3 separate regions of the Homo sapiens genome follow, and regions 1 and 2 are each reported to be linked to region 3. Evidence: microRNA targets listed by miRTarBase, many of them from high-throughput screens and not tested one by one. Region 3 holds a microRNA gene; each other region holds the end of a gene's coding sequence.

Region 1 (3,000 bases), not on the chromosome of region 3:
ATTTTTTTTTTCTTAAATAGATCTCCTTTCTGTGAAGAAATAATCTGTTGCCGTGGAGACCAAGTGCGACTGGCAGTTCGTGTCCGAGTATTTACTTACCCTGAATCTGCATGTGCTGTTTGGATCATGTTTGCTTGTAAATATCGCTCGGTATTATAGGGCCAATATTTATATAAGATTTATACCTGTGTTTAATTGGAATTTTACACATTGTACATTACTTAGCTATTTAGAGGTTTGTTATTTTAAAATCACAATCTGGCTTGAATGGCATACTTCAATTTTGTATATACTTGACTGGTAATGTTTAAAAAAAATCATGCATTCCTTTAAAAATTAAGGCTGAAAAACTTGTATAAATCTCCCTGGAATTTAGTATAAATTAAGTGTATATTCTATTTTAATAAATGCTACTTTGTTTACAGTTATCAGTAGTTTAAATATTAATATAAAATGCATTCAGTTTTCTTTACACAAACAGGTAATCAAAGAGATGTTTGTCTAAGGGTTTGAGCCCTAGACAAATCAGTATGATCATTACTTTTCACAGGTTAATGGAATTATTTTATACAGATTAGGAGAAATTAACCTCATGACAGATTTATTTATTGCATTGGTGAAAATAAATGTTAATGAATTACCACTTTTGTGGTTTATTCGTGGTCCTTGGGATATTTGAGACTGTCCAGAAATTTATGGTTGGACCTTGAAGCAAGAGTAGGAAAAAACTAATACCAGAAAAGCATAAATATTAATAACCTCATATGAAAGTACATGAATCATTTAGAAATATTTATCACTGTGATTTGTTGTAAAAATGAATTGGGTATTTTAGAAAAACTTTATTATACCTCTTTGTTATGATACTGATAAATTGTGATCTTGCAGTCGATCACTGATTTTCTGTGGTCAGAGGATTCATTATTAGCCTCTTCATGGATTCTATCTTCTGAAACCCTTTTTTCTTTCATTGTGATAAAAAAATCAGCATATATGTGACTAATCTAAATAAGAGATTGATTGTGTGAGACCACTGAAAACAAGCATATGTGAGTGATTCCATACTGATTTTTGTTTTAAAATTGAGCACGTTTTAAAAATTTTGTAAGGCTCGGCGTAGTGGTTTATGCCTGTAATCCCAGCACTTTGGGAGGCCGAGGTGGGTGGATCACTTGAGGTCAGGAGTTCGTGACCAGCCTGGGCAACATGGTGAAACCCTGTCTCTACTAAAAATACGAAAATTAGGCCGGGTGCGGTGGCTCACACCTGTAATCCCAGCTACTCAGGAGGCTGAGGCAGGAGAATCGCTTGAACCTGGGAGGCAGAGGTTGCAGTGAGGTGAGATCGCGCCACTGCACTCCAGCATGGGAGGCAGAGCGAGACTGCATCTCAGAAAAAAAAAAAAGGGCCAGGCATGGTGGCTCACACCTGTAATGCCAGCACTTTGGGAGGCTGATGTGGGTGGATCACGAGGTCAGGGGTTCAAGACCAGCCTGGCCAACACAGTGAAACCCTGTCTCTACTAAAGATACAAAAATTAGCTGGGCATGGTGGCATGTGCCTGTAGTCTAGCTACTCAGGAGACTGAGGCAGGAGAATCGCTTGAACCTGGGAGGCGGAGGTTGTGATGAGCCAAGATCATGCCACTGTACTCCAGCGTGGGCAACAGAGCAATACTCCATCTCAAAAAAAATGTTTTTTATAAGTTAATTTTAAGTAGCTAGGCATGGTGTCACACACCCATAATCCAAGCTACTCGGGAGTCTGAGGCGGAAGGATCGCTTGAGTCCACAGAGGTGGTGAGCTAAGATCGCGTCACTGCATTCCAGCCTGGGTGACAGAGCAAGACTCTGTCTCAAAAAAAAAAAAAAAAAAAAAAAAGAAAGTGTGAAACCTGATTCCTCAACTTATTTTAAAATTTTATATATTAAAAAAAGTGTTAAGTGAACAAAAGTAAACTTTAAAAAGAGTAGCAATTCAACTTTTTGCAAGAAGCTGCATAATACATGATATGAGGGGTTTGATTGCCCATTTAGCACTTCTGTGCATAGTTCTTTTCATTTTTTTTAAGTTTTTTATTTTTTCAAAGAATCTTTGTTCACTCTGATATGTGTAGTTCTTAATTTAGTTGCTTTATCCATTGGTCTTAAGAAAGTAACTCTATACCAGTTGGCTATCCAAGTTATTAATTCTTTTAATCACTTTAATTCACCCCTACAAATAAAATGATTTCGTTTTTCGAAAATTAAAATCTAAAAGTGTCTTAAAATTTACTTTTTGGGCCAGGTGTGATGGCTCACACCTATAATCCCAGCACTTTTGGAGGCTGCGGCCAGAGGATGGCCCAAGAAGTAGCTCAAGACCAGCCTGGGAGCATAGAGAGACCCCCCCCTATTTCTCTAAAAGAATAAATCTACTTTGTTTTATTTTTATGTATAATAAATATTCAATTTGTTTAAAAAGTCTGAAATATTATGATCCCTCTTCTACAATTTTCATCAAAAATGGTAATCAGATGTTTCTTGTGAGACTGACATGACTGTAGAAAATTAGCAAAATAATAATTGAAGCTTTTTTTAAAGCATAGTGGTTCACACCTATAATTCCAGTACTCTGGGAGGCTGAGGCAGGAGAATCTCTTGGGTTCAGGAGTTTAAGACCAGCCTGGGCAACATAGCAAGAACCCCTCTCTACAAAAAATGTAAAAAATTAGCAGGGCGTGATCGTGCACACCTGTGGTCCCAGCTGCTTGGGAGGCTGAGGTGGGTGAATCACTTGAGCCCAAAAGATTGTGCCACTGCACTCCAGCCTGGGTGACAGAGCAAGACCCTATCTCAAAGAAAAAAAAAACTTTTTAAAAAAGTTAAAAAAAACCACTCTTTTGCCAAAATTACAAAAAAAGCTATCAACAGAAAATTGCTTGTAATTTTCAACTTTTGAGACAAACTATGAGGTATGTACTAAGAGACAGACTATATTAAGATCAAGGCTGTATTAACA
Region 2 (3,000 bases), not on the chromosome of region 3:
AGCTGTTTTGTGGACACCAGGAGCATCACTGGACAATCCCTGTGCTGGCCCCAGAGTATCCTGTGCACCTGGATGAGGCTGGAACACATCGGGGGCAGGGCCGCAACACGTCCACTCCAGAACAGCGTGGGACCTGGGGAAATTGCCAGTCATTTGCTGTCCCATCATTGCTGTTCCACGCATCCCTGACAACTCTGAGCATGGGTTGTGGTGAGGTAGCAGCTGGGCAGGACCAGAAATGTCCATTTTTGACATGGAGGCAGCAGACACCCAGGCTTGGGGTAGAAGTGAGGGCTCCATACCATTCCCAGTGACAGCTTCCCATGGTGGAAACAGGCAGGAATGTCTGGCAACCCACCAAGGGTCAGACGCCACGTCAGTCCGAGCAGAAGCTGCCTGACCCTGGCTGTTCCAATGACAATGAGACATTCTTGGGGAGGTGGAGCCCTCTGTGGGAGCTCAGAATGGGTGTCCTCTCGCAATCACTGTGTTAGAGCTGCGGTTCTCAATGCGGGCTGCAGTGCAGTTACCTGCGGAGCTTTAGGGCGCTCCCAGGGCTTGGCTCCCCGGACCAGGGCCTTGAGAACCTTCACAGCAGGGGTAGCCGGTGTTGAGAAGCGTGCCTGGGAGACCACATGGCACTGCCTGGCTGGGTCCTCGGTTGACAGAGGTGAGGGTGGGGCTCGTGGTGACTTGGTAATGCCGTGAATTATCTACATGTGGCAGGAAGGTGCCACATGCCAAAGGATTCAGGAAAGACAACCCCAAAGATAACCAGTGTCAGTTACAGTCTCCACCTCCTCGAAGAAGACATGGCCAATCCCAACTCCTTGGCCACGAGGGTGACCCACAGTCAACTAATATCTGCAGTTCTCAAAGAGGGTCCAGTCTCCTGTGGCATTCATCATGGTGCCCTTCTGGGATTAAGGAGGAACTCACTGCAATCTCATCTTAAACACTGTATCATCAACACACCAATCTCCCATTAGCCTGGGTGCAGCCTGCAGTCCTGTTCAATGGAGTATTTGGAGAGGCCAGTTTAAGATCCCTGGTTGCTCGATGCCTGCTGGTGCCAAGTGGAAGGGAGTATGGAGAAGCCTGCACCAGCCCTGCCTGCATCCTGAGACAGACACCATGTATCATGATGTATCTAGGGTTATTAGGGTCATAGTACAGAGCCTCCAAATAGGCCTGTGATCGTGCGTGTCCAAGTATTTCAATTAATACTGAAATAAAGTGCATATGTGACAGACACTCTACAACCCACATGGCCAGAGAGCCATTAGAACTAGAAACTCCAGCCTGAGTTTCCAGCTTTCATACCCTGCCCTGCCGAATTAGAATGCTGCAAATCTGATAATGATTACAAATACAAAATTATGCAGAAAACCCCCTTTGATAAATTCAAATTTGATCACTGAGAAAAGTGATCTCCATGTCACTTTGGAGATAAAAGTGTGGACATAAGACTCTCACCAAGAGCTTGTGGCCCAAGGCAAATCACACCCATGCCCTGCCCTGCCCAAGGCCCTGCATCTTGGAAATTCTAAGAGGTCGGCATAAGGATGAACTAAACACCAAGCGCAGTCCTCAAAGGAAAAATAAAAGAAATATCCACACAACGGACTCTTTGGAACTGAGCCTGGAGGAGGGGGCTGCCCAGTCTACTCCAGGAGAATTTGCCGAAAACAAGTCTGTTCCCCATTCCATTCTCTCACCTCTTCTAAAAATCACCTCCTCCCCATTCCTGTAATTTGCGTCATTCTGGGCTCCTGACTCTTGTTGCATCTTTTTGACATTTTAAGGATATCTGGATTCGAATTACTTAAGAGCACATATGGCTTAATTTTGTATTTCTGGTAATCATTTATTATTAAATTTGCCTCATTTTATCGAATGACAGTTTTTTTCTCATATCTATTTTTAATGTTAAAGATTTCGTATCCAGTTTACCTAAAACCCCTTGCTTAAAATGAGTTTAATTCTAGCAATAAATACATGTTTATCGCTCCATTGTTTTATAATTTGACAATATGTTTTTCCTCAATATATTACTATATGGATAAGAGTTTTAAAAAGATACAGTAACATCTGATCCTCTGTCTCACTTGATCATGTGGCTCAACGAGCCAATGCCTCCGTCAAATAGAAATATCCGGCAACACTTAATCTAATGACTAAGAACATCCAGTGTGCACCTACACCCACGATGAGGAGAAAAGACCAAACAGCCAAAAAGGGGAGAATCCCATGATGTCTGTGTGAACTCATACAGGTATCATGGATACTTATTGCTAGAAACAGTATCTTAAACAAAAGGTCTTCAGGCAAGTGTATTAAAACTGCCTTGGATATAAGGGGCCCTATCACTTGTAAAACGTTGCAAATTTGATAAATAATGATTAAAAATACAAAATTACGGAGAAAACGCCCTTTGATAAATTGATCTTTAAAAAAAATCTTAATTGAGGTTCTCTAAAGGGAGCCTTTTAGGCAACGTGCCCGCTAGGTGTACTGATTGCTAGGAGGGCTGGCGACAAGCGAATCCATGTGGCTCCCTCAGCCCTCTCTTGGAAGCAGCCTGGACAAACAGCCTGGAAATGCGCGCAGCCCCGTGGTCCATGGAGCGGAAGTGGTGCGATGCGCAACGGGGCCGCCTCCTTCTCCGCGCCCAGCCCTGCGGCCCCGCCCCGGCCCCAGCCCCGGCCCCAGCGCCAGGCACACGGGCCCTCACGTCCTCTTCTTCCAGGGCGCAGTGCGCCTCTCCTTCTGCGCCTCGGCCTGGCGCTTCTTTTCGGCCTCCTCTGCCTTCCTCTTCTCCTCCTTGGCCTCCTTGTACCGCCACTTGGGGATCTGCAGGTGGCCGCTGTCCTTGGTGCTGCCCTTCCGCGCCGGCCGCTCGGGCTGGAAGGTGGGCGCGGGCGCCTTGCTGACTCGGACCCGGGGCACCACCACACCGGGCCGCACGCTTCTCCGCCGCAGGCGCTGCAGGGGCAGGAG
Region 3 (3,186 bases):
AAAAAGAAAGCACAAAAGTAAGCAAAGAGAATGTATATATGAGGGAACAAATAACTAAACATATTGCTTTATATAAGTGGACAAATTATATTGCTTAGCTATGCATACATAGATGATAGAATATAAAGAAAAACATTAATCACTATCCTTAGTTCTTTGTTTTTTTTTTTTCTTTTTTTTTTTTTTGAGAGAGAGTCTCACTCTGTTGCCCAGGTGGAATGCAGTGGCACAATCTCAGCTCACTGCAGCCTCCACCTCCCAGGTTCAAGCAATTCTCCTGCTTTGGCCTCCTGAGTAGCTGGGACTACAGGTGTGTGCCACCACGCCCGGCTAATTTTTGTATTTGTTAGTAGAGATGGGGTTTCACCATATTGGCCAGGCTGGTCTCAAACTCCTGACCTCGTGATCCATCTGCCTCAGCCTCCCAAAGTGCTGGGATTATAGGCATGAGCCACCGCACCCGGCTTGTTTTTCTTTACATTTGATCATCTATGTATGCGTATCTACTAAGCAATATAGTAACCACTATCCTGACTTTTATGATGGTTACCTCTGGGAGGCAGTAAAGAGATTATGATTAGAAAAAGATACACAGAGAGCATCTAGGGTTATTCTAGTTCTTAATACAGGTGATGTTTACTTCACGGTTCGTTACACAGTGCATTGTTTTATACACTTTTTTTTTTTTTTTGTTAGAGGAAGGGTCTCGCCCAGCTGATTTCAAACTCCTGGGTTCAAGCAATCCTCCCACCTCAGCCTCCCTAAGAGCTGGCATTACAGGCGTGAGCCACTGCTCCCGGCCTTGTTTTATGCATTTTTCCATATGTAGGTAATAGCTCATAATAAAAGGTTTTTTTGAAAATACACAAAAAAACTACCATTACACTCCCACCAGACTGGAAACAATTTAAAAGTCCAACCAAGTTTAATCAAGTGTTGTGCAAAAAGTAGAACAAATGGAAGTCTCACACATCCCTGATGGGAGGGCAATGCATTACGCCACTTTGAAAACCAGACAATATATGATAAAATTGAAGGGGAGCACACCCTACTCAGCAATTCCTTTCCTAACTATATGCTGTCAAGAACTCTTGCACACGCACACATGTATATTCCCAGGCATCTTCTAGAAGAAAATGGTGGTTATTTGTGAGGGTTAGGGTTACTAGGAGAGGTCGGGCGCGGTGGCTCACGCCTGTAATCCCAGCTCTTTGGGAGGCAGAGGCAGGAGGATGGCTTGAGCCCAGGAGTTCAAGACCTGCCTGAGCAATATAGTGGGACCCTGTTCTCAAAAATTTAAATTAAAAAAAAAAAATCTGCTGGGAGAGAGAGGAAGAGGAGGAGGAAGCAAAAAAAAAGAAAAAGAAAAAAAAGAAAAAGAAAAAAAAAAGATTACTGGGAGAAATTCAACTCAGGGTTGCCTCCTCTGGAAGGCCCCATCTGACTAGTCCAGACAGAATTAATGGCTCTGTCTCCTGTCCTCACCCATCACTTCAGTTACCAGTTAGCACAAGTTTTTGGCTGTCTCATTCTCCTTTCCTTCCCCCTCCAAAATTGAAAACTTAATGAAACAAGGACTGTGGTCTGATTCACCTGTCCAAGTCTCTGTTGTATAGAAAGAACACTTCCTAAATGTCTGTCTGATGGATGTTTTTGGAATTAATGCCTAAAAATAAGAAAAATAAGAAACAGGGGTGATCAGACAATCAAGGTTCTAGTACAGAGAATCCTTTTGGAGTTTCTGCTAGATTGACAGAAATCCCCAATTCAGGAGTTAACAGTTAAGAATGGGGGCCTTAGGGCGCGGTGGCTCACGCCTGTAATCGCAGCACTTTGGGAGGCTGAGGCGGGCGGATTATGAGGTCGGGAGATCGAGACCATCCTGGCTAACATGGTGAAACCCTGTCTTTACTAAAAATACAAAAAAATTAGCCGGGCCTGGTGATGGGCACCTGTAGTCCCAGCTACTCAGGAGGCTGAGGCAGGAGAATGGCTTGAACCCAGGAGGCAGAGCTTGCAGTGAGCCAAGTTCGCGCCACTGCACTCCAGCCTGGGTGAAAGAGCGAGACTCCATCTCAAAAAATAAAAATAAAATAAAATAATGGGGGCCTTCTACTTCTCCATTTTTCCAAGGATGGCCTTGGAAGTCTCTGTGTGGTATGGTCTTGGATGGTATTTTGTTGTGTATCTGGGATTAGAGAAGCCTTCAATGTTTGCAATTTTTAGTACATCCCTGTTAGCATATCCACTCTGAGGTGGATAGCTGGCAATCTCTGAGTTTGAAGATTTATTTCTAGGGTGACAAAAGGCTCTGAGAAGGATAATATATGATAGGAGATTCTATTGTCTCCATTTTTAGCTATGGGGAAGGTAGAGGGCTTGCAAGTGCACCCAAGGTTGAAATGTGTGAACATGGGTCTTTGCAGCACCTTTAAGGTTAGGGTCTCAGGGTTTTAAAGTTCCCTGGAGCTGAGACCCTTAACAAAGGGGCCGGCCTTACCTCTCACAGCAGCGATGTGTGATGACTGTCGCCCAGAAGCCCAGGACACAGAAGTTGAAAGATGTGAAAACCAACAAAGTGAGCAGGTTTATCACAGACACGAGAAAGGCATCACTGAGACAGTTGTTGGACTGGGGCATGTAGGAGGCTAAGGAGGCAACGGAGCCAAGGCCTATGCCTGTGTTAGACAAAACTTGACCCCCTGCTAGAGACCACACACTCATATTGTACACATCCGATATCTAAAAGAGAGAAGACAAGCATAAGGGGGTTGTAAAAGAAGAAGCAGAGGACAACTATAATAGAAATGTTGCAGGGAGGAGAGAGGGAGATACAAAAGTAAAGAATGGGGAAAGGAAGCTCTAAGAATAGGCAGCTGTGGTGCCCTACAAGGCCTGACGGGGGAGTGAGGAGATAGATTTCACCTTGGCAACCACCAACTGTTGAAGGCCAAATTTTGCCCCTTCCAGGAGTAGAGTCCGGATGAAGAAACCGACAATGATGAAACAGGGGAGCAGTACCAAGACATAGATTACCTGAATCGAGAGTGGGACATATCAGCAACCGTGTACCAGTAGGGGTCAACCAACAGTTAGGAGGGATCAAAAGTTCTGAGTCAGAAATGAGTAGGAGTTAGAAGAAAGCCTTCAGCAAGAGTCAGGGGCTAGGGGAGTAAAAGCCAAAGG

The links. Region 3 holds the annotated microRNA hsa-miR-4324 (CCCUGAGACCCUAACCUUAA, at 2,432-2,451, opposite strand). A microRNA usually pairs through its seed, bases 2 to 8, with sites in the 3' UTR of a target mRNA and lowers its output. Matches are read on the target gene's strand: a 7mer-m8 pairs with bases 2 to 8, a 7mer-A1 pairs with bases 2 to 7 and ends in A, and an 8mer does both.
Region 1: the mRNA of CEP76 is a reported target of hsa-miR-4324. The part of its 3' UTR that is shown has no 7-base or 8-base seed match.
Region 2: miRTarBase lists ANKRD33B as a target of hsa-miR-4324. Seed matches in the 3' UTR shown: 8mer at 1,119-1,126.

What each region holds. Positions count from the first base shown.
Region 1 is chr18:12,670,524-12,673,523 of GRCh38, reverse strand. CEP76 (centrosomal protein 76) reads left to right here. Exons shown (of 12, transcript NM_024899.4): 12 at 21-899. The coding sequence ends at 159. It also overlaps a transcript of PSMG2 not described here. Among named protein-coding and RNA genes, the nearest start is that of SPIRE1, 14 kb to the right of the region's middle.
Region 2 is chr5:10,649,844-10,652,843 of GRCh38, reverse strand. ANKRD33B (ankyrin repeat domain 33B) reads right to left here. Exons shown (of 4, transcript NM_001164440.2): 4 at 1-3,000. The coding sequence ends at 2,731. Among named protein-coding and RNA genes, the nearest start is that of ANKRD33B, 87 kb to the right of the region's middle.
Region 3 is chr19:49,306,376-49,309,561 of GRCh38, forward strand. It overlaps MIR4324 (microRNA 4324), which reads right to left and starts at 2,493; the gene lies at 2,422-2,493. It overlaps SLC6A16 (solute carrier family 6 member 16), which reads right to left. Exons shown (of 12, transcript NM_014037.3): 6 at 2,926-3,036; 7 at 2,501-2,742.